Regions from separate parts of the Homo sapiens genome. Here regions 2, 3, 4, 5 and 6 are each reported to be linked to region 1. Evidence: microRNA targets listed by miRTarBase, many of them from high-throughput screens and not tested one by one. Region 1 holds a microRNA gene; each other region holds the end of a gene's coding sequence. Distances are from middle to middle.
Evidence for each region. Region 1 holds the annotated microRNA hsa-miR-506-3p (UAAGGCACCCUUCUGAGUAGA, at 2,136-2,156, opposite strand). A microRNA usually pairs through its seed, bases 2 to 8, with sites in the 3' UTR of a target mRNA and lowers its output. Matches are read on the target gene's strand: a 7mer-m8 pairs with bases 2 to 8, a 7mer-A1 pairs with bases 2 to 7 and ends in A, and an 8mer does both.

Region 1 (5,075 bases):
TTAAGGTCAGTAGAAAACTACAACAACCCAATCCTGGCAGGACTACTAATGGCCCAGACCCTTCAGAAATGAAAGTTTGGGTCACTCTACCAGGTAAAATATAATGGCTGAGGTGCTTGCTGAAGGCAAAGGGAATACAAAATGGGTAGTGAAGAAAAGTAGTTGTAAATACCAGCTAACACCAGATGACAGTTACAGAAATGAGAATTGTAGTTCCCATGAGTATTTTCTACTTATATTTTTATTAATATACTTCTGTGTTTTCTTGTCTCTCTTATCCCCTTATCATGTAACGTAAGGTGTACTGATATTATATCATAGTTATTAACCGTTGTTAACTTTAAATAATCATAGTATTGATGTTATGGAACACCAAGGAGAAGAGTAAACAAACAACACTCCAGGACTTTATCTCCTCTTCTGGTGAAGTGGTTCATGAATTCTGGGTTGTATAAATGGTAGTTGTATCTTATTAAATGAAATTATGACCTTGGTATTTTTCTCATTTGATGATTAAATATAATTTAAGGAGATGCGTATAAGTGACAACATGACAAGGAGTGAACTTGTGATGATTAATTCTATATTTCAACCTGACTGGGTCATGGAGTGCCCAGACATTTGGTCAGTCATTATTCTGGGTGTTTCTGTGAAGGTCTTTTTGGATGACATTAGCATTTAAATCAGTAGAATGAGTAAAGCAGACCACCCTCCCTAATGTGGATGGATGGGCCTGCACCAATCAGATGAAGGTTTAAATGGAACAAAAAGGCTGACTCTCCCCTAAGTTAGAGAGAATTCCTCCTGCCTGACTGCCTCCAAACTGGGGCATCTCATTTTTTTCTGGCATTGTACTCAAATTAAAACATTAGCTCTTCCTGGGTCTCAAACCTGCTGGCCTTTGGACTGGAACTACAAAATGGTTTGTTCTACTGCTTCTTTGGCCTCTGGACTTGGACTGCAACTATACCATCAGTTCTCCTGGGTCCCCAGCTTGCTGACCCATCCCCCTGCAGATCTAGGAACTCACCAGCCTCCATAGTTGCCTGAGGTTATTCCTTGCAGTATCCTTATAATAAATATCTTAAGGGATTTATTTTAAAAATAGACTTCTATAATAATTATATACATATATATTTGCTCAATCATTGTCCTGGGTGTTTCTTTGAAGGTCTTATAAGACCTGATCCAGAATCTGAGGGTGCCTGGGGTACCTGTGAAAAGTATGTCCTGTAGGTTTTTTAAGCATTTATTCCTTTTTCTCCACAAAAGGACTACAAAACACTGGGAACAAGATTTGAGGTAGGAACATGATCCTTTTTCTGCATCCTTTTCCTTTTTCTGTGAATGTCATATGTATGTGTGTGTGTGTGTGTGTGTGTGTGTATATATATATATATATATATATATATATATATATATAAAGGGATATATAAACCCCTTTGTATATGTAAAGTTTCCAGAAGTATATGTACACACATGTTCATACATATATGTTCTCATCACTTCATCCGTTCCCATAATAGTTAAGACCAGCTAAAAACATATAAATAGTTCAAATGAAAGCAAATTTGGGGTATCATATCAAACTCCACTGATATGAGATTATCATCACGGATACACAGGAATATTAAAGGGAATTTGAGTGTATCTAAGCCTTGAGGAGATCACTTCATAAGAAAGATGGTTCATGGAGTTTGGAGTTCAGCAGGGAAGGGCAGGAGGATATTTGTGCTCCCTAAAAAGAAGGCTTAAATATTGTGAGGAAAGAAGATCAGTGTAAACTTCTCAGGGGTTTATAAGGCAAGAAGTGTATTTGGGTTGTTATAGAGAGAAAAGACTAAGAGGTACAAGAGAAAAAGAAGTATCATGTTCCTACCTCAAATCTTGTTTCCAGTGTAGTCAGTCATTTTGTGGAGAAAAAGCAATAAATAATTGAAAAACCTACATGAGAGACTTTTCCCAGGCACCCTCAGATTCTGGAGCAGATCTCTCAAGAGGTACTTCAGAGAGTACCTGGAAATGGCTCATCACTAAAGGTTGGGTACCAAGGCTCAAGGGAGGGCAGTATTGTCACTGAAATTCCACTCGTCATTACCAATGCCACCACAAATGTTGTCCATGTTGCACATTACTCTACTCAGAAGGGTGCCTTACAAATATTAATCTATTAAGTAACACCTTCCTGAATAAGGCACTACACATAGTATGGCTGATGGTGGTGGCACTGACCATCTTAATAGTAACACGGGGAAACTACAGATGAGGCTATTCCCAGAGAACCTCATCCTCTAGGTTTTACCCCACAGAATTCTCTTTAAAGGGTTGTATGAGTTGACCCATCACTGAGTGGGTAGTTCTGACTTGTATCTGTTGTGCATTATTTCACTCCAAAAGGTGCAAAACATATTTCTAGACACATGCATGGCACTTCTTGAAGTGAAGCACTACACACAGCACAGCGGAAAATGTCCCTCACTCCGCCATTTCAGTCAGAATCCCAACACTCTCAGTCCACTAGGAATAAGCAGAATATAGTCAATAGATTAAAAAAAAAACAAACCCTTTTTCCTCTCCCTTTTGTCTCCTATGTCTTTCACTGAATGCTTATTAATTACTTCACCTGCTGCACATTTAATGAGACAGATTTTAGGAGAGAGAAAATTTTCCCTCTTCCTCCCAGACTTAGCATACTTCACTAAATTGTTCTGCTAATTTTCAATTTAATATAGTTGGCACATGAACAACTACTTCATATGCCTCAAAAGCCAGTCATTACATAGAAAGGACCACTCAAGTGACTCATCATATCTAGCGATTGCAGGCCAGATAGAGCTCAGTTGAAGCAGTGCTGGAGAGTTCTCTTCTTTCCAATTTGAATCTTCTTTATATCATTGGGGCCTTGGTTTGGCATCCTCTGTTCAGAGATGAAGGCCTACAGCAGCAGAAGCAGTAGTCACCACAGTCATGCACTTGCAAACCAGTGTTTAGACCAAGAAATATCTGCAACACATGTGAACACATGCATGCCACACATGCAAATAAACATGTGAACAATGAAACAAACAACCCCAAAACGAATGCTCACAAAATAGGGCAATGCAAACACAAAGACAAACACTGCATGATCTGACTCATACGCAGAGTCTAAGAAAGTTGATCTCATAGGAGTAGAGAGTAGAATGATGGTTACCAGAGTCTGGGGAAGGGAAGGGAAAGGGGGGTTGGGGAAAAATTGGTTTATGGGTACAGAGTCACAGTTAGGAGGGCTAAAAGTTCTGATGTGTTATTGTGCAGAAGAGTGATTGATTATAGTTAGTTAACAATATTTTATGGTATATTCCAAAATCACTAGAAGAGAGGGTTTTGAATGTTCTTCCCACAAAGAAGTGATGGACGTTTGAGGTAATGAAAATACTAAATCCCTGATTTGATTATTACACAATGCATGTATGTATCAAAACATCTCACTATATCTCATCAATATTTACAAATTATTATGTGTCAACTAAAAAAACAATAAAGGAGTAACAATTTTTTTTTTGAGACAGAGTTTTGCTTTTGTTGCCCAGGCTGGAGGGCAATGGCACAATCTCAGCTCACTGCAACCTCCGCCTCCTGGGTTCAAGCGATTCTCCTGCCTCAGCCTCCCACGTAGCTGGGATTACAGGCATGTGCCACCAGACCCAGCTAATTTTCTGTATTTTCTGTAGAAGCAGGGTTTCACCGTGTTGACCAGGCTGGTCTTGAACTCCTGGCCTCAGGAGATCCACTGGCCTCGGCCTCCCAAAGTGCTGGGATTACAGGCATGAGCCACCGTGCCCAGCCGGGAGTAACAATTTTTAAGAATGTAAAAATACTACTGAAAATTCTAATTAACACACATTTAAAAACACCATTCAAAATCGGAATAAAAAAAAACACACAAAATATACAAAACACATCCAAATATACAAAATTCTACAGGAAACAAAAACCCTAAAAAAGCAAACAAGCAATACAATAACAAAAATCAAAAAGAACATACACAATACAAAAACCCCCAAAACATAAAAACAAATACACTAAAATGTAACTTTACTTTCCAATAATCCCAAACAAAACAGAGAACGAAGTTCAAAGGAAATCTAGCACGTATCAGGGATAGACGACACTGCACTGAGAAATGCTGCGAGTGTAGGAAGGAGAGCAGTGGACACTGAGAAGTAAACAGATGAGGTATCATAATAAACAATGATAGAAAACAAAGTAGAACAGTTTCCCACCTCTTCACTACAGCCTGTATTTCCTCATGACTTTGGGTGAAGTGAGGTATTTGGCCACTGCAAAAACAAAATCCACACACATCATCAGTTGCCAACTAGACACCAAGAAAGACATGATTTGAAAGAGCTTTCCTGGGAGATAATGTAGCAGCAGACTATCAAATTCTATCCCATCCTCTGATATGGACATGTAACATTTACACCTTGCTTCCCAGGTCGTGCTTCCTGTGGGCTCCAGGAATTGGTTCTCCCTCCCCCTCTACTTTCTCCTCCCCCTCCCTCCCCTTCTCCTTCTCTCTCCCTCTTCCACCCTCTCCCTTCTCCCCTTTCTCCTCTTCCCCTCCCCTCTCTTTCTCCTTCTCTCCTTCTGCCTCTCCATACAGATATTTTTATATCAAGGTTCATAGCTACGTCTTTTCTAGTAGTCAAAGCCAAAATAGCTATAAACTGGAGACAAATGGCCATTAACAGGTGAATGCATTTAAAAAAAACTGGAATATCCATACAGTGGAATACTACTCATCCATAAAAACAAATAAATTATTGATGCAAATAACAATGTGGACGAATTTCAAAATAATTATGCCAGGAGAAATAAGCTAGGCCAAAATAAACAGTATATACAGTATGATTCCATTTTAATAAAAAATTTTGGCCAGGCACCGTGGTTCATGCCTGTAATTCCAGCGCTTTGGGAGGCTGAGGTGGGAGGTTCAGTTGAGGTCAGGAGTTTGAGACCAGCCTGGCCAACATGGTGAAATCTCGTCTCTACTAAGAATACAAAAATTAGCTCAGCATGGTGGTGTGCGC
Region 2 (5,075 bases), not on the chromosome of region 1:
GAAGCCATTTTTCCCAAAGTCTCCCAGTGAGTGGTGGTGGCTTGACCAGGATTGAGGGGCTGAAGCCTTCTTCGCGGCCAGTCCTGCTCCCTGACCACCAGACCACACAGTCCGTGCTTAACATGTACTCAGCAAACCTCAAGCTCCAGGCCTGAAGAAACAGATTTTCCAAAAACAGAGCTCTCTTTGTGAACAATTCAGCAAAAATTCTCTTTCCAGCTGTGAGCTGGGATTCATGTTGCAAATGTTGGTGTTAATTAAAAACATCCACCTTCTACAGTTTCAGCAACAAGGAAAAAGCACCATGCATGAGGTGTTCCTAAGCACTCCCCTCCAAAGCACTTATAAACATGATTTTATTTATGGCATGTGTTGCTAGGGGTTCTGACAGATATTATTATTCCCAATCTTCAGCCCCAGTGAAAGAGTTGGGGCCAAGGAGATGGATGTGAAGGGCCCAAATTGCCATAGAGCAAAATTAGTATCAGTGGTGGACACAAGAATACTGTTCATTTCCCACAGGATCCACTAAAGATGTTCAACTTTCTGTATTCATATCAGGAACGGTACGTAGCTGAAATCAAATGTTTATCTGTTGAGTCATTAAACGTTTCCTTCACATGGCTCTTAGTCCTTCGGACATGAAGAAGTGAGGTCTGACAAGGCCAGGGACATTCCACAAAGGATGACACAATATATTCAAAGATTGGGATGTTCGATGACTTCCCTATATTCCTGTTATATTTCTCACCTTATTAGGAAATCTTTATCTCCAATGGTCCTGAGCTAGTGAGATCAGAAAGACTAAACTGCATCCCTCTGTGCTTGCCTCTGGTTGGTTGATTTGTCCTGCTTTAATACATGATCCAGACAAGAAAGAATCAAGCCAAAGCCACAGCATTATGAATGAAATTCTTTGTTTTTAATTTCACACAGTTTAAAATACAATATGAAATCAGGCTACAGTATATAAAAAACTCTCCAGCAAAATGATGTGCCAGCATCAGCTACTAAAATAAACAAACAAAAAACTCCGCCATAAGAATTTTTTTGCATTTTTTTTTAAAAAAACATCGACACTTACATCGCTACATCTCTAAGCTACCTCAGTTCTGATTTTTAAAAAGCACCTGCTTTTCCTTTTTTTCATCTTGCTTCTAAATTTTCAGCTTTTAAAAAATATAAATTATATGAAAATACAAGTTGGAAAATAGTCAAACACAATATAACATCTTTTTCATCCCTATACTTCTCAGCTTAAAAAAAAAGTATTCTTAAAAAAAAAAGTTCAATAACTGAGGCAGTATTCCTGATAATTTTATTTTAATATATATATTTTATATATGTATATGTATACATATATTTATGGTTCCTTGAAACTTCTTTGGAATGTAGGTAAGAGTTCAACAAATTTATATAGACCCCAACAGAGTAAGCGGCATGCACAGCATGACTAGAAGAGAGATGGTGTATTTCTCACCATGAAGGTTAGGCAGGTTAATGCTGTAAAACCCAGAGTGTTCATCTCCAAAGTGAGGAAAAGCACATCTGATCTTTGAATGCTACCTCCAATCCCCACAGCCACAAAAATCAGGGCTCTATGTAGGGGAAGTCCCTCTCCAGAATGGAGAAGGGAACAAAAGTGACTCTGAACCCTAAAGCCAAAACCAACAAAGGTTAAGGCATCTCTGGGAAAATAAGGGTTTCACCCAGCTAGACCAGATTTGCCCATCCTTCCTCTGAAGTTAACGTGTGTTTTTAAAAAGCATAAACGCAACATTTCCAGTGTATAAACCACCCACCACTCTTCCTGGGATGGTCTCTGGCCTTTGGACAAAGGAGAAAAAACATCTGGCCAGATCGACAAAGCTGTCTTAACTAATACACTATCTACAAATCTTGAAAATGGTGGACTTAGAGAGAAAGGGAATTTTAGCAAACAAGCGGGCGGAGGAGCACTAGGAGGCACTTTCTTATATCTTATCTGCTATAGGAACTGCAGGAGTTATACTCACAGAAGGAGAGTTTCCGGCATAAATTTAATAGGAACGGTGGATGATTTGAGAAAGTGATTTTATGCCTGGTTGCAAACAGCAAGCAATAATTGATACCCGGCCCTGGTTCTACTCTTACCCATTATTGAAATGTGGAAAGACTTACCTAGAAATCTAAGGTATTATTTCAGCTGCAGTTTTGCATGTCTGCAAACACACACACACACACACACACACACACACACACACACACACACAACATTCACACACATGCACACATTCACACACACACCTTTTGCCAGTGCCCAACAAAAATCACATAATCTAAGAGAAAACAATGTAGTCCAAACAGTTCCACCCAACACTCCCTGAGCAGCTCCTAAAATATTTTGAGAGCTTCATTAAGGCACCTGCATCCAAAAGATCAAAATAATACAGCTGGGATAATTCTGCCTTTGCTTTCCATATGGATGCTCCAATTCATCAGTATGGGGACACTCATGAATCACAGAGCTATGTTCCTGATAATTCTGGGTCTGCAAGAGGATCTGGGAGTAAATAACAATCAATTTTCTTAAAGATATGCTAGAAAGTAGTTAGTACTTCCAATTTCTCATCCAAATCCCAAAAAGGGCCAGCCCTGAGAAGCTTACCTGAAATATTTCTTTCCTTCTCTCATGGAAGTCCATAAAAGCCACCCCTCCTCCTTATCCTTTCAACTGGGCAACTATAGAGTGAGGGAGATTCTAATTGTATTAGGCACTTTTCCTCACTAGTTAGATGTTGACTTTTCCTCTAAAACTCCATTTTCAGATTCCCCCTCACAACCAGCAGAAAGATGACTACCTTGCTTGACTATGTTTGTATTTAAACCTTGGGGGAACTAAAAATCTATTCAAATCTCATGGACAACCTTATTTTCCTCACTGAACCTCCTTCCTTAGTTTCCTTTGCCTTCAAGTCATTCCTCTCTTCTGGAATTAACCTTCACTTACCCTGTGCCAAGACATCAGACCCAAGCAAGAGGCCCTGGCATCACCTGTGCCATTCATTTTGCATACACAGTCTCACCTGACATCCTACCGGACTAATTTAAATTCTTCAAAGGAAAGCCTTGCACTTCTCTTCCAAAGACAGCCAAGTCACATTTTATTGAAATGCTCTCTTAATTTCCATCACTTCTAAAACTCAGCAAGTCTAAACTCTTCAACTTAGGTCGTGTCTCAAGTTACTTTTTCACTCACCAATCAGAAAGCCGTACACTTCTCTCTACTGAATAACAGAGTTGGCGGTGAGGGGGTGCAAAAAATGGAGGACTCTTGGAAAATAAGACATAAAAGAAAAATTACAGAGTGTTAGTTTGGAACGACATGCATTCAGGACTTATTTCTTAGGACCTGAGGGGTAATGCCCATGCATACAGCTTTTATTCCAAGTCATCTATGCTACAGATATAGGACTAAGAAAGAACCAAGTCAATCTTCCTCCTTCGATCTCCCTTCCAGGACTTCAACAGTGCTCCTACGTTTACTGTCGTCCAAAACCAGGGATGCAAAATACATTCAGTTCAAAGACTTAATGCTTCTTAGCTCAACATTAAGTCCAAACCCCGAGAATCCACTGATAACAAGTAAGTAAAGGGATGTGCTAATTTTTTTTAATTGTAGATGACATTCACACACATAATTCCCCTGTACCCAAATCAGCATTAATTGTCCTTCTTATATAAGTCCCATGAATTTGGGATCCCTGATCTCAGTGAGAGCGTTTTGCTTTTCCAATGGGGTCTATATAAACAGTTTTCTTTCATTGTGACAGAATCCTCAGCCGGCAAATAAAAACAAACTTACATGATATTGCAATACTGAGACCACCTTAGAGCTTAAGACGATTTTTAAGAAAAAAAATACTGGCACAAAATTTAATAAAATAAATTTTAACACAACAACGGTTTTGGCCCCTCCCCACTGAAGTCCATCTTTGCTTCAAAACTAGAGTGATAGGTAAATAGTTCTCAGATTTTCAGTGCATCCCCCCCCAAAACATGTTTCATCCCACCCACCTCTTTTTTGCCCTCCCAGACCTAAAAACAGAAGCAAATTAATTGCCTTACATCAGTTTCATGAGTTCTGATGTGACAATGTCACTTGCTAATGGGTCCACAACTCAAGACACTTTTTCATGGATGATTTTTAAAAATGATTGGACACATTAGTCTCTTTCTCTGTTAAGCCAGAGCCTTCAAGCTTCTGAGAAGGCCCTTCTCCCTCTCCTGAAAATTTGCTCAAGAATTTCTGGTCCCACCCACCCCACAAGTCCTGGCTTTCCTTTCCCAACTGCGCACAATTGATTACAGCTGCAACTGACTTAGCTCCCACCCCTGAAGGTAAAAAATGAGTTCTGGAAAATAAAAAATAGAATAACAATTCAAAATTCAGAGTCCAACCAACACGGCTGTCCTTGGAAGGTCTCAGCAGGGTTTCCCCAGCCCCTTCAGTGCCATCACTCGTCGGCATCTGGCTTGACGTCCAGCATGGCGTGCAGCTCCTCAGGGGTGTACCCCAGCAGGCTCTGCAGGTCACACACAAAGCGGTACACGTAGCGTTTCCCCGCTGTCTTGTGGATGATGTTTTTGTCGTAATAGTAGCGTAGGCCACGGCTCAGTTTCTCATAATTCATCTTAGGTTTGTTTTTCCTCTTTCCCCATCTCCTGGCCACCTGAAATTTAAAAAGAAAAATAAAGGAGGAGTAGGCAAAAATCTACAAGACAGGCCAAATATATATGTTTCTATGCCTATGCTATACCCATTCATGGTGACCCATGATGCTCAAGTAAGATGATTTGAGATTCATGTAGATATAGAAAATATTTTTCGGGCCTATCTCCTGAATTCCATTTTTCATGGGTTGGGCAAGGATGGGAGTCACAATGATTCTTTAAGTTGATGAAAACACAGTGACCCTGAACTAGGATTAAATATGTGACTTTAAAAAACAAACAAAAAGCCACACTATACATTCTCCTCTTTCCGCATATTATTAGTAAAATCTCCTTGCTTTGCAAGCATGAAATCTAACAGG
Region 3 (5,075 bases), not on the chromosome of region 1:
GGGGGCGGGGCCTGCTGGAGGGGCGGGGCCTGCTGGAGGGGCGGGGCCGCTGCCGCAGTGCGTAGGGGCGGGGCCTCCAGCCCAGGACAGGTCACATGGGTGGCGGTGGGGCCTGAGTAAGGGCGTCTTTATACTTCCGAGGGAGTATCACGGGGTAGGGTCTTTTGTAGGGTTGGGATTTGGAAAATAGTGGGCCTCTGGGGGCTCACACTGGGCAAGAGGTATGTGGCATGGTCAGAGCGGGAGCGTGACTCAGAGAGGGGCTTGTGGGTGTAACCAGAGGGGCATGATGGAACCAGGGGGGTGAGACTGGGTCATGTAAGGGGCGGGGCTCTTGGCTGGGGCGTGGTTCCTGGGTGGAGATGGGCGGGGATTTGTGGGTGGAGTTTGGGTGGGCGGCCCCGCAGTCGCGGAGGGGCGGGGCTTTGGGTAGCATAAGGGGCAGGAGCTCACGAAAGAGGTGTGGCTCCTGGGTACAATGGGAAGGGCAGGGCTTGTGGGTGGAGCCTGAGGGGTGGAATGGAGAGGGGGGCTCACGGGGGGCGGGGGGGTGCTTGTGTCTCCTACCAGAGGGTTTTCGCATCTTGGGGGTTAAGGGTGGGTCTTGGGGCCAAGAGCCCTGCGGGGTTCTCAGCGAGATGTCCCCTGAACTTCCCCTGGCACCCGGCCTGCAGAGTCCTGTGAGCACGTGGTGTGCCCGCGGCCACAGTCGTGCGTCGTGGACCAGACGGGCAGCGCCCACTGCGTGGTGTGTCGAGCGGCGCCCTGCCCTGTGCCCTCCAGCCCCGGCCAGGAGCTTTGCGGCAACAACAACGTCACCTACATCTCCTCGTGCCACATGCGCCAGGCCACCTGCTTCCTGGGCCGCTCCATCGGCGTGCGCCACGCGGGCAGCTGCGCAGGTGCAGACGCAGGGCGGGGGCACAGGCCTGTCCTGGGGGCCGGAGAACCCCCTGCCCTGCGCCCTCAATGCTCTTATCGACCCTTGCAGGCACCCCTGAGGAGCCGCCAGGTGGTGAGTCTGCAGAAGAGGAAGAGAACTTCGTGTGAGCCTGCAGGACAGGCCTGGGCCTGGTGCCCGAGGCCCCCCATCATCCCCTGTTATTTATTGCCACAGCAGAGTCTAATTTATATGCCACGGACACTCCTTAGAGCCCGGATTCGGACCACTTGGGGATCCCAGAACCTCCCTGACGATATCCTGGAAGGACTGAGGAAGGGAGGCCTGGGGGCCGGCTGGTGGGTGGGATAGACCTGCGTTCCGGACACTGAGCGCCTGATTTAGGGCCCTTCTCTAGGATGCCCCAGCCCCTACCCTAAGACCTATTGCCGGGGAGGATTCCACACTTCCGCTCCTTTGGGGATAAACCTATTAATTATTGCTACTATCAAGAGGGCTGGGCATTCTCTGCTGGTAATTCCTGAAGAGGCATGACTGCTTTTCTCAGCCCCAAGCCTCTAGTCTGGGTGTGTACGGAGGGTCTAGCCTGGGTGTGTACGGAGGGTCTAGCCTGGGTGAGTACGGAGGGTCTAGCCTGGGTGAGTACGGAGGGTCTAGCCTGGGTGAGTACGGAGGGTCTAGCCTGGGTGTGTATGGAGGATCTAGCCTGGGTGAGTATGGAGGGTCTAGCCTGGGTGAGTATGGAGGGTCTAGCCTGGGTGTGTATGGAGGGTCTAGCCTGGGTGAGTATGGAGGGTCTAGCCTGGGTGTGTATGGAGGGTCTAGCCTGGGTGAGTATGGAGGGTCTAGCCTGGGTGTGTACGGAGGGTCTAGTCTGAGTGCGTGTGGGGACCTCAGAACACTGTGACCTTAGCCCAGCAAGCCAGGCCCTTCATGAAGGCCAAGAAGGCTGCCACCATTCCCTGCCAGCCCAAGAACTCCAGCTTCCCCACTGCCTCTGTGTGCCCCTTTGCGTCCTGTGAAGGCCATTGAGAAATGCCCAGTGTGCCCCCTGGGAAAGGGCACGGCCTGTGCTCCTGACACGGGCTGTGCTTGGCCACAGAACCACCCAGCGTCTCCCCTGCTGCTGTCCACGTCAGTTCATGAGGCAACGTCGCGTGGTCTCAGACGTGGAGCAGCCAGCGGCAGCTCAGAGCAGGGCACTGTGTCCGGCGGAGCCAAGTCCACTCTGGGGGAGCTCTGGCGGGGACCACGGGCCACTGCTCACCCACTGGCCCCGAGGGGGGTGTAGACGCCAAGACTCACGCATGTGTGACATCCGGAGTCCTGGAGCCGGGTGTCCCAGTGGCACCACTAGGTGCCTGCTGCCTCCACAGTGGGGTTCACACCCAGGGCTCCTTGGTCCCCCACAACCTGCCCCGGCCAGGCCTGCAGACCCAGACTCCAGCCAGACCTGCCTCACCCACCAATGCAGCCGGGGCTGGCGACACCAGCCAGGTGCTGGTCTTGGGCCAGTTCTCCCACGACGGCTCACCCTCCCCTCCATCTGCGTTGATGCTCAGAATCGCCTACCTGTGCCTGCGTGTAAACCACAGCCTCAGACCAGCTATGGGGAGAGGACAACACGGAGGATATCCAGCTTCCCCGGTCTGGGGTGAGGAATGTGGGGAGCTTGGGCATCCTCCTCCAGCCTCCTCCAGCCCCCAGGCAGTGCCTTACCTGTGGTGCCCAGAAAAGTGCCCCTAGGTTGGTGGGTCTACAGGAGCCTCAGCCAGGCAGCCCACCCCACCCTGGGGCCCTGCCTCACCAAGGAAATAAAGACTCAAGCCATTTTGGGGTGTCCAGGCCTCAGTTTGTCTCCTCTCTCAAGGCTTCAGGCCGCCCCCACGGCTGTGGGATGGGCAGCCTGGGGCCTGGGGTGCCGCATGGGTGCTCTGGAGGCACGGGAAGAGAGACCCAGCATTAGTCCTTGGGCAGCCTCTGGCCGCCTCTGGGCCTCAGTGCCTCTCCAGGCAGTGGACAAGCCCGGGAGGGGCTGAGGCAGAGCGGGAGGGGAGGGAGAGAAAGGAGGTCTTTTGGGAGGGCACACAGGATAGACAAGATGGCTTAGGGCAGCCCTAAGACACCAGCTGGCTTGGGACCCAGAAATGGAGGCCCGGTCTTGAATGACTTGGGTGTAACGATAGCAGTAATAAAAATAACAGGATTAGGGCCCGGGTGGGGTAGCTCACCCCTATAATCTCGGCGCTTTGGGAGGCCAAGGCGGGCGGGTCACTTGAGGCCAGGAGTTCCAGACCAGCCTGGGCAACATAGTGAGACCCTCATCTCTACAAAAAAAAAAAAAAAAAAAAAAAAGACCCAGGCATGGTGGCATGCTCCTGTGGTCCCAGCTACTCAGGAGGCGGAGGTGGGAAGATGGCTTGAGCCCAGGATGTCAAGGCTGCAGTGAGCTGTGTTGGCACCACTGCACTCCAGCCTGGGTGACAGAGTGAGACTGTTTCTAAAATAATAATAATAGCATAATTGGCCGGGCGTGGTGGTTCATGCCTGTAATCCCAGCACTTTGGGAGGCCGAGGCAGGTGAATCATGAGGTCAGGAGTTCGAGACCGACCTGGCCAACATGGTGAAACTCCAATCTCGGTGAGCCGAGATCGTGCCACTAAACTCCAGCCTGGGGGACAGAGCAAGACCCCATCTCAAAAAAAAAAAAAAAAAAATTAGCCAGGTGTGGTGTCATGCACCTGTAGTCCCAGCTACTTGGGAGGGTGAGGCAGGAGAATCGCTTGAACCTGGGAGGCAGAGGTTGCAGTGAGCCGAGATCGCACCACTGGACTCCAGCCTGGGTGACGGAGTGAGACTCTGTCTCAAAATAATAATAATAATAATAATAATAACAACAACAACAACAAAAAGGCCCAGCGCGGTGGCTCACCCGCGCCTGTAATCCCAGCACTTTAGGAGGCCAAGGCTAGCGGATCACGAGGTCAAGAGATCGAGACCATCCTGGCCAACATGGTGAAACCCCATCTCTACTAAAAATACAAAAAATTAGCCGGGTGTGGTGGTACATGCCTGTAGTCCCAGCTAGTTGGGAGGCTGAGGCAGGAGAATGGCTTGAACCCAGGGGCAGAGGTTGCAATGAGCCGAGATTGCGCCACTGCACTCCAGCCTGGTGACAGAGTGAGACGTCATCTTAAAAAAATAATAGGCCGGGCGCGGTGGCTCACGCCTGTAATCCCAGCACTCTGGGAGGCCGAGGTGGGTGGATCACGAGATCAGGAGATCGAGACCATCCTGGCTGACACGGTGAAACCCCGTTTCTACTAAAAATACAAAGAATTAGCCGGGTGTGGTGGCGGGCGCCTGTAGTCCCAGCTACTTGGGAGGCTGAAGCGGGAGAATGGTGTGAACCCGGGAGGCGGAACTTGCAGTGAGCCGAGATCGCACCACTGCACTCCAGCCTGGGGGACAGAGCGAGACTCCATCCAAAATAAAAATAAGTAAAGATAAAAAAATAAAATAATAATAAAGAAAATAAAATCTAAAAATAAAAAAATAATAACACAATAACAAACTGTGACAATAACATCACCTGGGACTTGCTGTGCACCCCGCGCTATTCTCTGGTTTTCAGAGGATGACCACGAGGCTTGATGTGTGGCCAGACCCTCTTGGGACTCCTCGGCGCGGCCGGTGCAAGCCCGCCCTGGTGTCCAGCAGCCCCCACGCCCTGCACAGGGAGCTCAGGGCTTCCTGGCCTCCGTTTCCCAGCGGACTCGCCTGCGGTGTGGTTAGGCGGCTGGAGGGAGGTGGAGGAACGGCATTCCAGGTGGGAGGCTGCAGGAGTGTGGGTTGCAGGGGCGCAGGGGTAGACCCAGAGGGGTTCACGGTGGGGGGCATGGGAAGGTGGAAAGGGGCTGCGGACCGAGCCGCGACACGAATGCCGGTGGACCCTGCAGCTGACCGCCCACGGGTGAGGCTGGAAGTCAGTTAACATTTTACTGGGTTTGCTTCTGCCCTTTGCATGTGGAATGGGTGTGCCCCACCGCTGCCCGTCCCACCCCAACCCTGAACATCAGGCTTCCCGTGGGGCCCAGCCACGGAACATTCCAGGCCTGGAGCGGCCATCTCATTTGCATGCCGCAAGGTTGTGGCTCAGGCGGCTTCTCCTGG
Region 4 (5,075 bases), not on the chromosome of region 1:
AACTACAACAAATTGCTAAAAAGTCCACAGTAGCCTTAAGGACAAAAAAAAAATTGAGACGAAGAATAAAAGGAAACCATTGGATCACGATTAATGCAATACCAGGATAAAAAACTTAAAACACAACATAAAAAGAGCTGACACTGCACGCACCCAGAAAGGGTCCAGCTAGGTGCTAGTTTTGCAGGTACATCAGTTGTTTCACTTTGACGTTCGTATTTTAAAGTCCTGTAAGCTTTAAAAGTATGATCTCAGAGCTATCAGACAATGGGACAGTATGAAGTTTTGTCATAGTATTTTCCTTTCCACTTTAGAATTCCCAGTTAGGATATGCATATGCATATCCATAGTCTACAAAAAGCAAAACAAAATTTTCTTTTTTTTTTTTTTTTTTGAGACGGAGTCTAGCTCTGTCGCCAGGCTGGAGTGCAATGGCATAATCTCGGCTCACTGCAACCTCCGCCTCCTGGGTTCAAGCAATTCTCCTGCCTCAGCCTCCTGAGTAGCTAATTTTTTTATTTTTAGTAGAGATGGGGTTTCACCATGTGGGCCAGGATGGTCTCGATCTCTTGATCTCGTGATCTGCCCGCCTCGGCCTCCCAAAGTGCTGGGATTACAGGCGTGAGCCTCCATGCCCAGCTTTTTGTTGTTGTTGTTGTTGTTGTTTGAGACAGAGTCTCACTCTGTCACTCAGGTTGGAGTGCAGTGGTGCAGTCTCAGCTCACTGCAACCTCTGCCTCCTGGGTTCAAACGATTCTCCTGCCTCAGCCTCCTGAGTAACTGGGATTACAGGTGCATGCCACCACACCTGGCTAATTTTTGTATTTTTAGTAAAGACGGGGTTTCACCATGTTGGCCAGGCTGGTCTCAAACTTCCGATCTCACGTAATCCACCCACCTCAGCCTCCCAAAGTACTGGGATTACAGGCGTGAGCCACCATGCCCAGTGCAATTTTTTTTTTTTTTTGGCACAGTTTCGCTCTTTTTGCCCAGGCTGGAGTGCAATGGCACAATCTCGGCTCACTGCAACCTCCGCTACCCAGCTTCAAGCGATTCTTCTGTCTCAGCCTCCCGAGTAGCTGGAATTACAGGCACTTGCCACCACGCCCGGCTAATTTTTTGTATTTTTAGTAGAGACGGGGTTTCACCACGTTGGCCAGGATGGTCTCGATCTCTTGACCTCGTGATCCGCCCACCTCGGCCTCCCAAAGTGCTGGGATTACAGGCGTAAGCCACCACGCCCGGCTGCCCAGCACAATTTTCTAAAGTAAAAATTAAGGCTAGGTAACATATAACACTGACCTTAAAATAAACACTGTTTTCGCAGGGCATGGTGGCTCACGCCTGTAATCCCAGCACTTTGGGAGACCGAGGGCAGACAGATCACTTGAGGTTAGGAGTTTGAGACCAGTCTGGCCAACAAGGTGAAACCCCCATCTCTACTAAAAATACAAAAATTAGCCAGGTGTGGTGGCGCTCGCCTTTAATCCCAGCTACTTGGGAGGCTGAGGCAGGAGAATTGCTTGAACCCCGGAGGCGGAGGTTGCAGTGAGCCGAGATTGTGCCACTGCACTCCAGCCTGGGCCACAGAGCAAGATTCCATCTCAAAAAACAAAACAAAAACCCAAAACCCACCGTTTTATAAAAACAGAATCTAGACCCCATGTCCCCACAGCAGGGGGATAGCATTTAAGGATTGAGCCAGAATTACCAGCTCTGCTTCTAAGTTGGGAAGTTGGCTTTAAAAGGGAAAATCTAAACAGAAACAAAACTATGTCTCTATTATGAATGACATATTTGGGGGAATATCAGAATTTTTAGGGTGCAAATTTTCTCAAGTGTTTAACAGATGTAGTAAGGCTTATTTCAAATTGAGTTCCATTTTCTCAACTATTTCCATCATTCCCTAGAACCTGAAACCAACTCCTGACTTTACTACCTGTTTCTCAAAAAATTGTCTCTTCCTCTCCCTCCCTGCCACTACCCTTCCCCCTCTTATCTATGCTGTCCCCAGAAAAATCCATTGGAAACACTTCTCAACATGTCCTCGACTGGCTTATAAGCCTTTCCAAGCCCCACCTTAATTAAGAGATGCTTATTAGCAGGTATCACACAAACCAGACATAAAGTGAGGAACATGAGATCCCTGGCCTCAAACTTGTACTACTTAGCTAGATCTGTCCTATCTGCCATCTCTCCTTTGGCCATTTTGCCCCTCACATTTTACTCTATTCACTTGGAATAGCATTCAGTTCCCTCGGAACATGACTTTGTGTTCCTTCTTCCCTTTGAAAGGTTCTTCCCCACCCTTCTTTAACCAGGCTAACTCGACTCACTCTACATGATTCAACTTTGGATGTTGTCTCCTCCAAGAAACATCCCCCGAAGTCCTGGGCAGAGCTAATTTTTCTTCCTACAGTTTACCCACAGCACCCAGCAAAAACCCTTGTCATAGCACTTAGCAAACTCTAAGGAGATTAATGTGCATTTGTCTTACTCCCCAACTATGCTGTAAAGCTCCTTGAGGACATGGACCATCTCAGCTACTTCACAGCCCCAGAACCTTGTGTGGTTTTGGCTCAGGAAGCATTTAATTACACATAATTTGTTACATTCATTTAGAGAAATGATCCTCTATGAAAATATAACTATATATTGAACATAATATACATTTTAATACCTATTTATAAGTATTTATTAAAATGTTTTAATGCTTTAAGGAATATCAAAATTTGTGAACAGCCAACCAGTCTAAAACGAAAAGGGCTGCTAACAGTGTTATGAATGGTGAACAACTAAAACTCTCATACATTGCTGGTAGGAGTGTAAACTGGCAGAATTTACTAAAGCTAAACAGAAATATACCCCGTGACTCAGCAATTCCATTCCTGTATATATACCCAACAGAAAAGATAAGAATGTTCTTAGCAGCATTATGCTTAACAGCCCCAAACTGGAAATAATTCAAATGTCCATTAACATTAGAATGGATGAATAAATTCTAGTATATTCATACAAATGCAAGAGCAATGAAAATGAACTCCTGCTATACATAGGAACAAAGATACTACATTATAAAATTAAAAAATAATCTGCGACGATGGGGTGAAAACAGTGGGGACCTCTGGAGGTGGTGAGGGTCATGGGTATCAACTGGGAACAGACACCTATAGGAAGCCTTCTGTGGCAATGGAAGTGTTCTCTAACTTGATCCGGGTGGTAGTTACACAGGTGAACACTGTAAAAGTTTACCCAGCTGTGCACTTAAGATTTGTGCACCTGTATTACAACAAAGTGAAGGAAAATTGCAACAAGAAAAAAGAAAACTTGTGAACAACTGTGTTAGGGCTATGCCAACAGCATGTACAGCCACAAGACAAAAAGCAAACTGATAAAAGTCTCTTTGTCCTTTCCCTATAACATGGAAAATATTTTTTTTAAAAAAGATTACTTAAAATGCACAAATGGTATTCCTTTTATTATAATGTTTTAAACTTGGCTTAAAGTTCAAAATACTATTTCCAGATAACTTTCCACTGTTACATCAACTAGGCAACTTTGTTATGTTTATGTTATATGTATCAGTTACTTATCAGCACAGAATTTTAACCACTCTGCTAAATTTTGAGAAAACAGCTAAACTCAATATAAAATTTGGCCTACAGAATTATAGTGGCTATTTGTTACTAAAAATATTCCAAAAGAAATTTACTTATTTTACTATATTCCATATTCTTTAACTTAAAATCTGCTGCCACTGTTTAGTAAAAGTGGGACAAATAAAATTCTTTAAAATATAGAAAATACAGTTCCTGTTAAGATTTTGCAAACAAAAAAATTAATAAATAATACAATTTGAGTACTCTAAAACAATATACTTTGTAGTCTAGATTGTGGTTTTGGTCAGTATGTCTGACACTATGAAGATTTACATCAGTTCAGGGAATGAGTTCTAATACTATTAATAAATAGTCAATATAACCAAACACCTGACAGGATTCCCCATATGAATATTTTTAGGAAAGTATACAAATAAAAAGATTAACAGGTTTTTAAAATCCTTAAGAGCAAGAAAGAACAAAAGTATCTAAAACTTATACACGACAGGCAGAACCTGGGTTACAGTATACCTAAGGCAAGAGTGAATGTAGCACCCTGAGACACAAAACATCTTAAAATTACAATCTTATATGCGTATATATAAAATAGGACACTTTCTATTGGTTATGTGAACTAGATTATAACCTACAAATCTTAGTATTAACCAGAACTTCCTGACTGGCTGACATAGCACATTAGTGAGATAATACAGGTGGTACTTGAGACTTTGAAACCTTTTTCAAAGACTTTCTTCGCTTTTGACTTTGATGCTGTCACCTTCAAGGCACCAGTCCAAGTGCTCATTAATCTGAGACTCCAGAACTTCATTCTGACAAACTGGGCAATTAACCATTTTGCTCTGACTGGATGAACTGCTGGAATTCTGAGCTGTGGTTGTACTATACTTTGGATCATTACCACTGCTTTTTATTTGCTCTTTCTTGATAAAAAAATTGTCAAAAACAGTCTTATCTTCTAGCCTAGGTCGTTTATTTGGGAATGTATCTTCAGACCCACTCACATCCTGGGATGGCATCACAGATGCTGATTCCGTTACTTTTGAAGAATTTCTTAGGGATATCTTAGAAGATGAAACCCTTCTCTGAGAACTAGAAGAGACTGAGTTTTTAGGGATGTTGCCAACTGTTACACTTATCCTTGGAGATCCATTCACACCTCTGAAAGCCTTTTGGTTGGCAAATGATACTCTAGGAAAGTAGTTGCTTAGAACATTTTGGTGACTGTTACTAACAGCAGGGGAGACCAGATGAGAATTTTTACTTGAACCATTCTGTTCAAATTTCACCTTGATTTTAGAATTAGGTCTTACAGCATTTGCTGAATGGTTTTGATTTAAAAGATCTTGGGTTTTATTAATGGCATGTGAAGTGATCAGTTTCCCAGGTGAAGGTAAATTGCTTGTTTCTCCTAGAACATATCCTTTCCCACTAAAAGGGATTACTAGCTGGGCCTCA
Region 5 (5,075 bases), not on the chromosome of region 1:
GTACAGGGCTAAACAAGTATATAAAGTCATTCTTATACAAGGCATGATTTAAGTACCATAAAAGAAGTATAAAAACAACACACAAACTGACATTTTTATTTCTCTGGCAACAGATGTACTACTCCAGTGGAGAGACCAACAGGGACATTGTGAAGGCAGTGGCAGCTGACCAGGACCCTTTGTAGGTTGTGATTTTATATTTCAAGATTAGTCAAACTTCTCCCAGATGCCTAGTATTTTGCAGATTACTTTGAAGGGGTCTTGCAGATAAAGCTGAGAGAAGAGAGAAAGAGATCCCCCCCCGTATTGTTCTATATTGTTTTATGCTCAGTACCTGTTTTAAGAAACAAGGAAGCAAAACCAAAGGCAGGCAGCCGGGTGCCAGGCACCAGACCCAAAACCAGGCCTGGGCCTGCCTGACCTTAGCCTGATAGTTAAAATTCAACCCATGACCTAGCAACCGATGTTATCCGTAGATTCCAGACATTGTATGGAAGGACATTGTGAAACTTCTCGTTCTGTTGTTTCACTCTGATTACCGGTGCATGCAGCCCCTGTCACATACCCCCTAGATTGCTCAATCGATCACGGCCCTGTCATGTAAAATCTTTAGTGTTGTGAGCCCTTAAAAGGGACAGAAATTGTGCACTCAACAAACTCGGATTTTAAGACACTAGACTGTCGATGCTTCCAACTGATTAAAAGCTACTTCCTTCACTATCTTGGTGTCTGTGGGGTTTTGTCCACGGCTCATCCTGCTACAAGGCTACTAATCTTCACGCAGCACATCCCCACATTTAAAACTTCAGTTAGGGTGGTCCTCATATTGACTCTAAGTGCCTCCTAATACAAATCTGTTTCCCTTTTCAGTCCCTAGAAGAAACATAATAGAGTGGGTCCAGTCCGTATTTCAGGCATGCCTACCACTTCAAAGCCTCTAGAAAATTCCATGCTTACATCAAATTTTTATTGAGCACCAAAAAGGCACAAGATACACAAGAGCAGATGAAATGGGTGCTGACATTAAGAGACCTAAATCTTTGAGGGAAATAAAATCAGTAAAAATAATCACAGAATAATATGTGAAAGGCCTTAAATGTGGTATCAAACACCAAGGGGCCAAAGAAGGTTTCAGTATCAGGGACTCGTGGAAGATTCCCAAAAGAGAACGGAGTGGCCACATGGAGGGACATATTCCAAGCAGAAAGAACAGTATCGGATGAAAAGAATGGGGCATATGGAGTGATAAACTAGTCTAGGTACTGGACTAATTAGGAAAAAACATGAAATCCAGCCTACAAAAAGACTTTGTTTCTCATTAAATTTCATAATATAAGAAGAATGAAATTTAGCTGTATTTATTAAAAATGTCCTTTTAAAAAGCTTAGAAAATGTTATCTGTCAAATTTTAGGGATTTTCTTCTATTGCTATTTTGAGAAGGTATCTTAATGTTAAGATGTTCAGATTTCTATTAAGAACAAATGACCTCATCCCGCTTCACATTCTACCTCCCAGAGACACATTTTTACAGGCTACCAATTAGTTTATTCTCTGAAAAAGGAATAGAGATTAAGTCCTTAAAATTAGTATTAATTGAATATAAGTGTAAAATCACCAAATTTCCTATTTTTAACTTTCTAAGACAGTAATAAAGTTTTAAAGTACATTATTCCTGGCTGGGTGTGGTGGCTCACGTCTGTAATCCCAGCACTTTGGGAAGCTGAGGCGGGCAGATCACCTGAGATGAGGAGTTTGAGACTCGCCTGGCCAACATGGCGAAACCCAGTCTCTACAAAAATATAAAAATTAGCCGGGTGTGGTGGCACACACCCATAATCCCAGCTACCAGGGAGGCTGAGGCACAAGAATCACTTGAACCCAGGAGGCAGAGGTTGCGGTGAGCAGAGATCCCACCACTGCATTCCAGCCTGTCCAACAAAGCAAGACTCTGTCTCAAAATAAATAAGTACATTATTCCTGATTATAACTATTTCCTCAATTCTAAGATTTTTTTTTTTTTTGCATTTCAGTATTTCTGAAATCAGATGATCTAAAAATTAATTAATGAAGTATTATTTCTCTTCTCCCCCTGAAAAGCTATGATAAAATCAATGATGTATTTTATAATTGATGGTATCTTAACATTAAGGCAATATAGTGATGAGAATAACTGTTGGCCTTCAGAACTCAATTTTTCAGTAGTCATAGTCCCTCAGGTGTCTTAGTTTCAGAGGAGATTTCAATAGATTTTATCATGGAATGGTGAACACCATAAAGTCAGGCAATGTCCCTATCCTTGCTTGAATCAGAGAGGGGAACTCTCACAACGGTTTTACAAACTTCATATCTCACCCAGTCACCTCCAAATGTGCCCCTCCTATCATAGCCCTCCATGTAACAAAAGGGAGAAGAGCTTTCTGATGCTTATGAAGTCCAGGGGTATAACTCATCTTTTGACATCAACTGATGTACACCACTGCCACACTGATCTGGGCCACACTTGAGCATTCTACACCAGGCATCAGTCCTAACTTACCTGGAATTTAAATACCAGATAGAGTGCAGTTCCTCCACCCTTACTTACAGGGCTCTGCCTAACCCCAAACAAAGATGCCTTCAAATCTGCTCTACAGCAGTTGTTTGGAAACAAGAGAAAAGTCATTATGCAAATATAAGTCATTCAAAACAATTCAGTCTTAAGGAGACAATAACTAGCACAGAAACGGGGAGATGAACTGTTTGTTCTGGGAGTTCAAATTACTGCCTTCAATGCTTTGTTATCAGGCCAAAAGGTAATTACCATTAGACCCAGTAACAATCTTCATTGTTAACCTAACACACCAATGACAGAGGAGAACTGAGAGCCAAGCACTTGGGTCTCATTTAATTTAATCACAAAACAAACCTCAGGTATAGCTGTTATTCTCCCCATTATAATAATGATAATAATGAAGAAACCGGGGCTTTTAGAGAGTGACCTGGCCAAGATCATACAGCCAGGAAATATTAAGGGTAGGAATGAGGAGTTTAGTTTGGGCGTTTAATTACCAAACTATCCTGGCTTCTGCTACGAACTACTTTTACAAAGACAGAATCTTACTGCATAGGTTAAACGACACTGGAATGACAGAGCAAGTCGTAGTTCTAAACATCTCACTCATTCAACAAGCATTTAAGTGATTCTAGACCGTCAGAGGACAACTGCAAAAAGTACTTGAAGAATAAATATTTAATAATAATGTAATTATAATTATAATCTGTATATCTAAACAGTGCCTTTGTAAAAACCCTTTCCATCATCTTCAAATTCAGTCTAAAAATAATTGTACGCTATACTTTTCAAGTGGGGTTTAAACTATTGTTTCATATTTAACATAAAATATTTTCCTATTTAAATTAACATACTTTTATGTTCACGGTAAACAAACTGCATAGGTTTTCACTTTCATTTTCTTCTGACATCTTCTGCAAAAGAATGGTCTGCCCATTTTTTGGATAAAAAGGCTAGAATAATGTGACCGGAGCTGGGTGAGGTGGCTCATGCCTGTAATCCCAGCACTTTGGGAGGCCAAGGCAGGCAAATCACTTGAGGCCAGGAGTTCGAGACCAGCCTGGCCAACATGGTGAAACCCCGTCTCTACTAAAAATACAAAAATTAGCCAGTCGTGGTGGCATGTGCCTATAATTCCAGCTACTCAGGAGGCTAAGGCAGGAGAATTGCTTGAACCCGGGAGGCAGAGGTTGCAGTGAGCTGAGGTTGTGCCATTGCACTCTAGCCTGGGAGACAGAGCAAGACTCCATCTCAAAAAAAATGAAAACATAAAAATAGAACAATGTGACTGGGAGAGACTTAAAGTGAGGAAAAATGAATGCTGAAAGAACTAGTAAACTGGCTGAAGATGGAACAACTCCCCATGTCTCCAGAGAGGCAGATAAGGGACTGTAAACCAGCAAATGCCACCTGCCTGTTATCTAGCTCAGAAAGGTGCACACCTCTGGAAGCAGCTGAATTTAAGTCCAGTGTGGCACTTTCAGAAAATGGCATCAAAGGTTGGACCATAAATCTTTCTTATTCTCCAGTCACTGGACATTTAAGAGCCAAGATATTGATGGGCTCTTTCCCTCCTTTTCTTTCTCCTTGTAGCAGATGTATGATTCATGGATTGTCCTTTCGTGGTCTCCATTTTCATCTTATTACTTTTTCTTTGCTTCTGCTTTCTGACAGCTCTGGAAAACAAGGTGCTAAATTATTTCACAGAATGAGCACAGTGAATTATGTAATTATGTTGAAGTTTAATTAACTAGCTAACCAAATAAGAAAATAGAAGAAGGGAAAGAATCTACTGTATTGCAAGCATAAATCCTCAGTCTCCTAACCATAACAACAAGGGAAGAGTCAGAGGCCTAACCAAGCAAAATGTTTGAGAAAAAAAAATTCTTTAAAAGATGGTTACTATGGATTTAGAACAAGCTGTCCGGGGCAAACACACCACAGAGGTAAATGCAAAGCTAGTGAGATTGGACTTTTTAAAAAAGTTTTTTGTACATCTGTATTGCTCAACTCAGCACTTCAATCTCCAAATCCTTGAATTCCGTTTTTTTTGGAGAGGAGCTGATACATGGGGCAGTCAGCAGAGACAGAAAAATGAAACAGCACAATGGAAAAAACCGAGAAGCCTTGAAAGGGCCTGTTTCCTAAGTCGTACAGATTTTCCTTTCCTCAGCGGATCTAAAAGTCCTGACAAGTGCCACGCAGGGTTATCAGCATTTTGTGGTCCTTATCTTGAAGATTAGCTTCAAAATAAACAAGCTGGAACTCACCCTCTGAAAACACTGAACCACACCAGACAAAACAGATTCTTTGTTTCTGGTGTTCTCCACACTAAGTTACAGGCGACCTGCAGCTGAGAAAATGACTGGCCCATCCATTCACTTCTCCAAGCTAGCAGAATCATGCCATGACACTCAACATATTGAGAACCAAGGAAGGGGCCAGAGCTACAACAATGCCAAACCAGGACTCCTCCCCTGATTACCCAGCAATATCAATTGTTAGGTTCACCTCTCATAAGCT
Region 6 (5,075 bases), 5.5 Mb from region 1:
AATTTTAAAAATACATTAAGTTGAATGAAAATAAAAATGTACATACAAAAAGTGGGATTCTGCTAAAGTGTGTCCTTGAGGGAAATATATAGCATATTTTAAATGTTTATATTAGAAAATGAAATCTAAAATCAATAACCATAACTTTCACTCTAGGAAACCAAAGAACGAAGAGCAAGTTGAATTTAAAGAAATTGTAGAAGATCCCACCTCCCTCCCTTCTCACACTCCCACCTCTTCCCCCTTACTCCCTACCCCTACCATTTGAGACACACAGACACACACATCATTTTACAACATGTTCATTTTATTTTCGTCACCATGGGGTATACCCTTTGGGGTATAAAATGTACTCTACACCCTGTTGGCTATTTTTCTGGGGTTAGACCTCTGGAGACTTTTCAGGTAGCCTTGAGGTTTCTGGCCTTGCCCGGGAATTACTGGCTGCCCAAAGAGAGACTGGAGAAGGTGGTGGTCTCCTTGCCCTTGTGGTCCTACTGTGTCTCATTTTGATTGAGTTCTTTTGGCTGGTCGGAGTGGCTGGATAGTGTTGGCCCACTCCATTCCTCAGGTTTTTTTGAAGCGGTGGTCTTTTAGGGAGAGCCTTTTGTTCCTGGAACTTCCTTGACGGGTCCCTGTTCCCTTCCAGGTTGTCTTGGCAACCTGGAAAACCAACCAGGAGATCAAAGAAGGGCACTGGTTTGGGGAAGAGGATGGAGAAGGGGTGAGAACAGGGGCTTCATAGAGAAATGGGGCAGGGTGGGGTGGGGGTTGTGCCAGGGGAGGACAGGGTAGGATTTAGAGCTTCGGTGGGCCGTTCACTTTGATAGGGCTTCTGGGCTAGGGTTGAGAGGATGCTTTCCACTTCCTCACCTCTTTGGTGTTGGTGGGTGGTTGTTGGACAATGGGCTGGAGGCTCGTGGTTTCCTGGACATCTTCACCAGACCAGTGTCTCTCAACAGTCTACTCCAGTCCACCTGGTCTCTCCATGCCTCCCCCAGGACAGTGAAGGCAGGCCAGCAGGCTAGAAACTCACAGCGCATTTTTATGTTAGTCTTGTGGTAGAATTCCTTTTCCAGGAAACCTTGGTCTTTTCTCTTAACACCTTCAACTAATTGGATGAGGCCTATCCACATTATGGAAGTTAAACTGCTTTACTTAAAGTCAACTGATTGTAAATGTTGATCACATCTACAAAATACCTTCACAGCAACATCTAGACTACTGTTTGACCACACAGCTGAGCAGTATAGCCTAGACAAGTTGACACATAATACTAGCCGTTGCACATATCTTGCACCATACAAAAATGTAACTCAAAATGAGCCACAGACTTTATATGTCACAATTACATTGCTTTTTTTTTCTAGGACAAAACAAAAAAAATTGTGTTACCTGAGGTTATGTCTTAGCTTAGGCTGCCATAACAAAATGCCATTGACTGAGTAGCTGAAACAACAGAAATTTATCTTTTTTCAGTTTTGAAATGTGGAAGTCCCAGATCAAGGACTGGCGGGGTTGTCTTCTGGTGATGGCCTTATTCCTGGCTTGTAGATGGCCCTTTATTAATTTGTCAGTTCTTGGCCTTTCCTCTGTGTATGTGCAGAGAGAGAGAGAGGAAGAGAGAGAGAGAAAGAAAGAGAGAGAGAGAGAGAAGTCATGCAGGCACAAAAGTACTTTCTTCTGTTTCTTCTCCCTTCTTACAATCACACTAATTCTGTGGGATCAAGCTCCCACCCTTATGGCCTCTTTTAACATTAATTACTACCTTAGAAGCCTCATCTCCAAATACTGACACCCTGGGGCTGAGGGTTTCAAAATATGAATTTGGTGGAGGACATAAGCATTAGCAAAGAATAGACACATAGATTAATAAAACAGAATAGAGCTCAGAAATAGACCTGCACACACATAGTCAGGTGATTCACAACAAAGGCAATAATGGTGAAAGTACAGGTTTTCCAACAAAAGGTGCCTGAACAATTAGACACCTATACACAAATTATAATAACCTAGACATATCCTTACATATTGCACGAAAATTAACTCAATACATCATAGACCTGATGAAAAATACAAGAACTATACAACCTCTAAAAGAAAACGTAAGAGAAAATCCACATAACTTTGAGTTTGGTGATGAGTTTTTAAATTCAACACCAAAAGCATGATCAAGGAAAGAAAAATTTGCCAAGTTGATTTTATTAAAATAAAAATTTTATGCTCTTCAAAGGACAATGTTAAGAGAATGAAAACAAGCCACAGTCTAGCAGAAAAAATCTGTGGTACACATATGTGATAAAGAACTTGTCTCTACAATATATACGAATTCTTAAAGCTCAATGATAGAAAAAATGAAAATAGTCAAAGATCTGAACACAATCTACACAAAAGAAGATACACACAGGGCAAATAAGCATAATAAAATACTGAGTGTCCTTTGGCATTAGATAATTGTGTACTAAAGTGAGATACTACTACACACCTATTAGAATGTCTAAAACCCATAAAAAAGCAAAACAAAACCAAGACCAATTGCCAGTGAAGATGTGGAGCAACAGAAACTCCGGGCGTGGTGGAAATTAGAAGTTTAACAAATGGCCGATGGCTGTTATTTCTAATATTTTTAAAGCCTAGGCATTAACACTCTGGGACTTTGTTGTTGTTGTCGTTGTTCTCCAGGAGTCATCAGAAAATATACAGCTCAACAGGACATGGGATAATTAGGCCAAAAAGGAAGCTTCACCTGTAAAATTCAGTTAAGTATTTCCTCTTAGAGAATGCACTTCAAACTTTGTGTGTGCGGGAGTTTTGCCCAGCCAGGTGCAACCCAAAACTCCTAGAATGTGTGTCAAAGACCAATTCCTTCCATCTCTCCCAGCTGCTTTCCCACCCAAACCACTATTTTCATCCATTTTGTTACCATCCAAAATCTGGCCCACGCCTACAATTGGTCAAATTGCACTTGAGATAACCTAGTTAGAATGCCTTTTTAATGGAGTCAGCTCTGGCTCTCCCTGCCTGGCAGAAAAGCACCTGGCCAGTGGCTTCTGGGTCACCCTTCCTGGGAAATTCAGCCTTATCGCTCAGGAAACCCTTGCAGATGATAGATTTTCATCACCTAGATCTTGGGTTGTGTTCAATAGCAGTGGGACAAAAGCACAGGACACCTTCTATTCCAGCCCCAGGTGGAGATTCCTCTCTGTTCATCCCCCATCCGAAATAAACTACTCAGAGTTGCTTTCCATTCCAGGCTTTTCTCTCATTCACTGAGAATCTGTGGGCCCTGGACCCACCCAGCTTCATCAGAGTCAGCTCCTTCAGAAGGAACTGCAGGTTCCCAAAGTCCAAAATGCCCCAGCTCAGGGCATTTACACTCCACAACTCCCTCCTGGAACCCCACACCCTCACCCTTCTCTTATATTTCCTCTACATCTTACAGGACTTCTTGCCACCTTAATTATATGACTGCAGGTCCTAGGCTCTACAACCCTACGGGTAGGCGTGAGTCTTGCTTACCTTAGCATCCGCACTACTAACGCAGAGCCTTCCACAGAGCAGATGCTGAGTGAATGGAAAATAAATGAGCCAGTGAACAGGAAGAATTATTTATTCAGATTTAATTTCTCTTAAATTCTCAAAGAAGCCAAGGATATCCAGGTATCCATGCTTTTTTTTCAAATTTACAGAATAGAGTGAGGTATAAGGCAAGAATTAAGTATCTTTTAACTTCTTGAGGTCTTTATCTCATGTATTTTACTGCTAATTCTTTCACAATTCTAAGCACATACTTTTTCCACTGCTGTTATTTGTCACAATTCACAAAATGGAATGGATTTCCCAATCTGAATAAAAAACAACACTCTTACTCCTAAACTATATAAACAGCACTATGTGTGACTACTGTCATTCATAAACTTGGATGCTGAAGTTCATTCAACCATCCGTTAAAAGGAACATTTGAACAATTCCAACAGGAAACAAAGATAAATCTCAAAGTCATCCAATAGAACAGAAACTCACTACTAACAATACTGACTGCTCTCTTCAAAGAGTGAAGAATGGGCCTCATGTCACACGAGGCAGTGGAAACTAATGGATGGGGCCTTGGAAGGTGCACTGGCCCAGACCCCCTCCCACTGGCCCTGGCTGCAACTCGTGCTCAGACTCACTCTTCCCCCTCTCTAAAAGCCCATTCATGCAGGGGTGGGTAGGAAATGTGAGGTCCTCCACTGATCTTTAGCAAATGGTGCAGGACTTTCACATAGCTGGTTTCAACGAGGGCCCTTGGACCCCACAGGAACTCGTAGCATGCAGGATCACTGCCGGGGACCTGCCGGTACTCCAGGTAGTTTTCCTGCACCAAATCTTGGGTGAGCAGCTTCCTGGGATGCGCAAAGACACTGTCCTCCCTCCCATCAGATGCCTCCAACACACTCAGCTCCTCCCAGATTTTCTCCTCAGGGGCACAGTCGCCCTCTTTTGCGATTATGGCCAGGACGATTATCAGGAGGCCTGTCTTGGGCACGATCTGATTGTCGCCCAGCAGGCCATCGTAGGAGAGGCCCAGGCAGGTGACAAGGATGTACAAGTGGCCGATGCGGACCACTTCCACCACCTCGATGCCAAAGACCAGCTGCAAGTACTCGGAGGCTTTGCTGAAGATCACAGGAAAGAAGTCCTGGAAATTTCTGATGACACTCCCCAGCATTTCTGCCTTTGTGAATGGCTCCCTGGCTCGATACTTGAGGAGCAGAAAATGAACCAACTCAGCCATCTTCCTACTGAGTGCTACTTGGAAGCTCGTCTCCAGGTCAGGAAAGGTGCTTGGCCCTTCCTGTTCTTCGTTGCTGGAGCCCTCATCGGATTGACTCCAGAGAGTATAGTTGATGGTAGTGGGGAGGGTGGAGGCTCCCTGAGGACTGTGGGGAGGACTTGGTGACTCGGCAGCAGGCACCTCCCGCAGGGTGACTTCCACTAGAGTAGAGGAGGAGGAGGCAGTCTCCTGCTCCTCAGTAGCAGGAGCCTGCGCACCCACCAAGCCCAGGGCCTCTCCTTGGGCCTCAAGGCCTTCC

Region 2: miRTarBase lists ETS1 as a target of hsa-miR-506-3p. Seed matches in the 3' UTR shown: 8mer at 2,397-2,404 and 7mer-A1 at 1,679-1,685.
Region 3: the mRNA of FSTL3 is a reported target of hsa-miR-506-3p. Seed matches in the 3' UTR shown: 8mer at 2,612-2,619.
Region 4: miRTarBase lists SPRTN as a target of hsa-miR-506-3p. Seed matches in the 3' UTR shown: 7mer-A1 at 4,132-4,138.
Region 5: the mRNA of ZCCHC4 is a reported target of hsa-miR-506-3p. Seed matches in the 3' UTR shown: 7mer-A1 at 3,706-3,712.
Region 6: miRTarBase lists MAGEA12 as a target of hsa-miR-506-3p. Seed matches in the 3' UTR shown: 7mer-A1 at 3,704-3,710.

What each region holds. Positions count from the first base shown.
Region 1 is chrX:147,228,618-147,233,692 of GRCh38, forward strand. MIR506 (microRNA 506) reads right to left here and starts at 2,226; the gene lies at 2,103-2,226. MIR507 (microRNA 507) reads right to left here and starts at 2,460; the gene lies at 2,367-2,460. All of the region lies in intron 2 of LOC105373347 (periphilin-1), which reads left to right.
Region 2 is chr11:128,457,865-128,462,939 of GRCh38, forward strand. It overlaps ETS1 (ETS proto-oncogene 1, transcription factor), which reads right to left. Exons shown (of 10, transcript NM_001143820.2): 10 at 901-4,712. The coding sequence ends at 4,497. Among named protein-coding and RNA genes, the nearest start is that of MIR6090, 62 kb to the right of the region's middle.
Region 3 is chr19:680,659-685,733 of GRCh38, forward strand. FSTL3 (follistatin like 3) reads left to right here. Exons shown (of 5, transcript NM_005860.3): 4 at 675-902; 5 at 992-2,727. The coding sequence ends at 1,050. It overlaps PRSS57 (serine protease 57), which reads right to left. Exons shown (of 5, transcript NM_001308209.2): 5 at 4,888-5,075. The coding sequence ends at 5,058. Among named protein-coding and RNA genes, the nearest start is that of FSTL3, 6.8 kb to the left of the region's middle. RefSeq lists silencers at 1-164, 355-454 and enhancers at 275-824, 825-1,373.
Region 4 is chr1:231,352,626-231,357,700 of GRCh38, reverse strand. SPRTN (SprT-like N-terminal domain) reads right to left here. Exons shown (of 5, transcript NM_032018.7): 5 at 2,678-5,075. The coding sequence ends at 4,340. It overlaps LOC107985360 (a long non-coding RNA gene), which reads right to left and starts at 411. Exons shown (of 2, transcript XR_001738520.3): 1 at 1-411.
Region 5 is chr4:25,368,182-25,373,256 of GRCh38, reverse strand. It overlaps ZCCHC4 (zinc finger CCHC-type containing 4), which reads right to left. Exons shown (of 13, transcript NM_024936.3): 13 at 2,874-4,228. The coding sequence ends at 4,093. Among named protein-coding and RNA genes, the nearest start is that of ANAPC4, 6.5 kb to the left of the region's middle.
Region 6 is chrX:152,736,200-152,741,274 of GRCh38, reverse strand. MAGEA12 (MAGE family member A12) reads right to left here. Exons shown (of 3, transcript NM_001166387.4): 3 at 3,606-5,075. The coding sequence ends at 4,169. It also overlaps the pseudogene CSAG4. Among named protein-coding and RNA genes, the nearest start is that of MAGEA12, 5.0 kb to the right of the region's middle.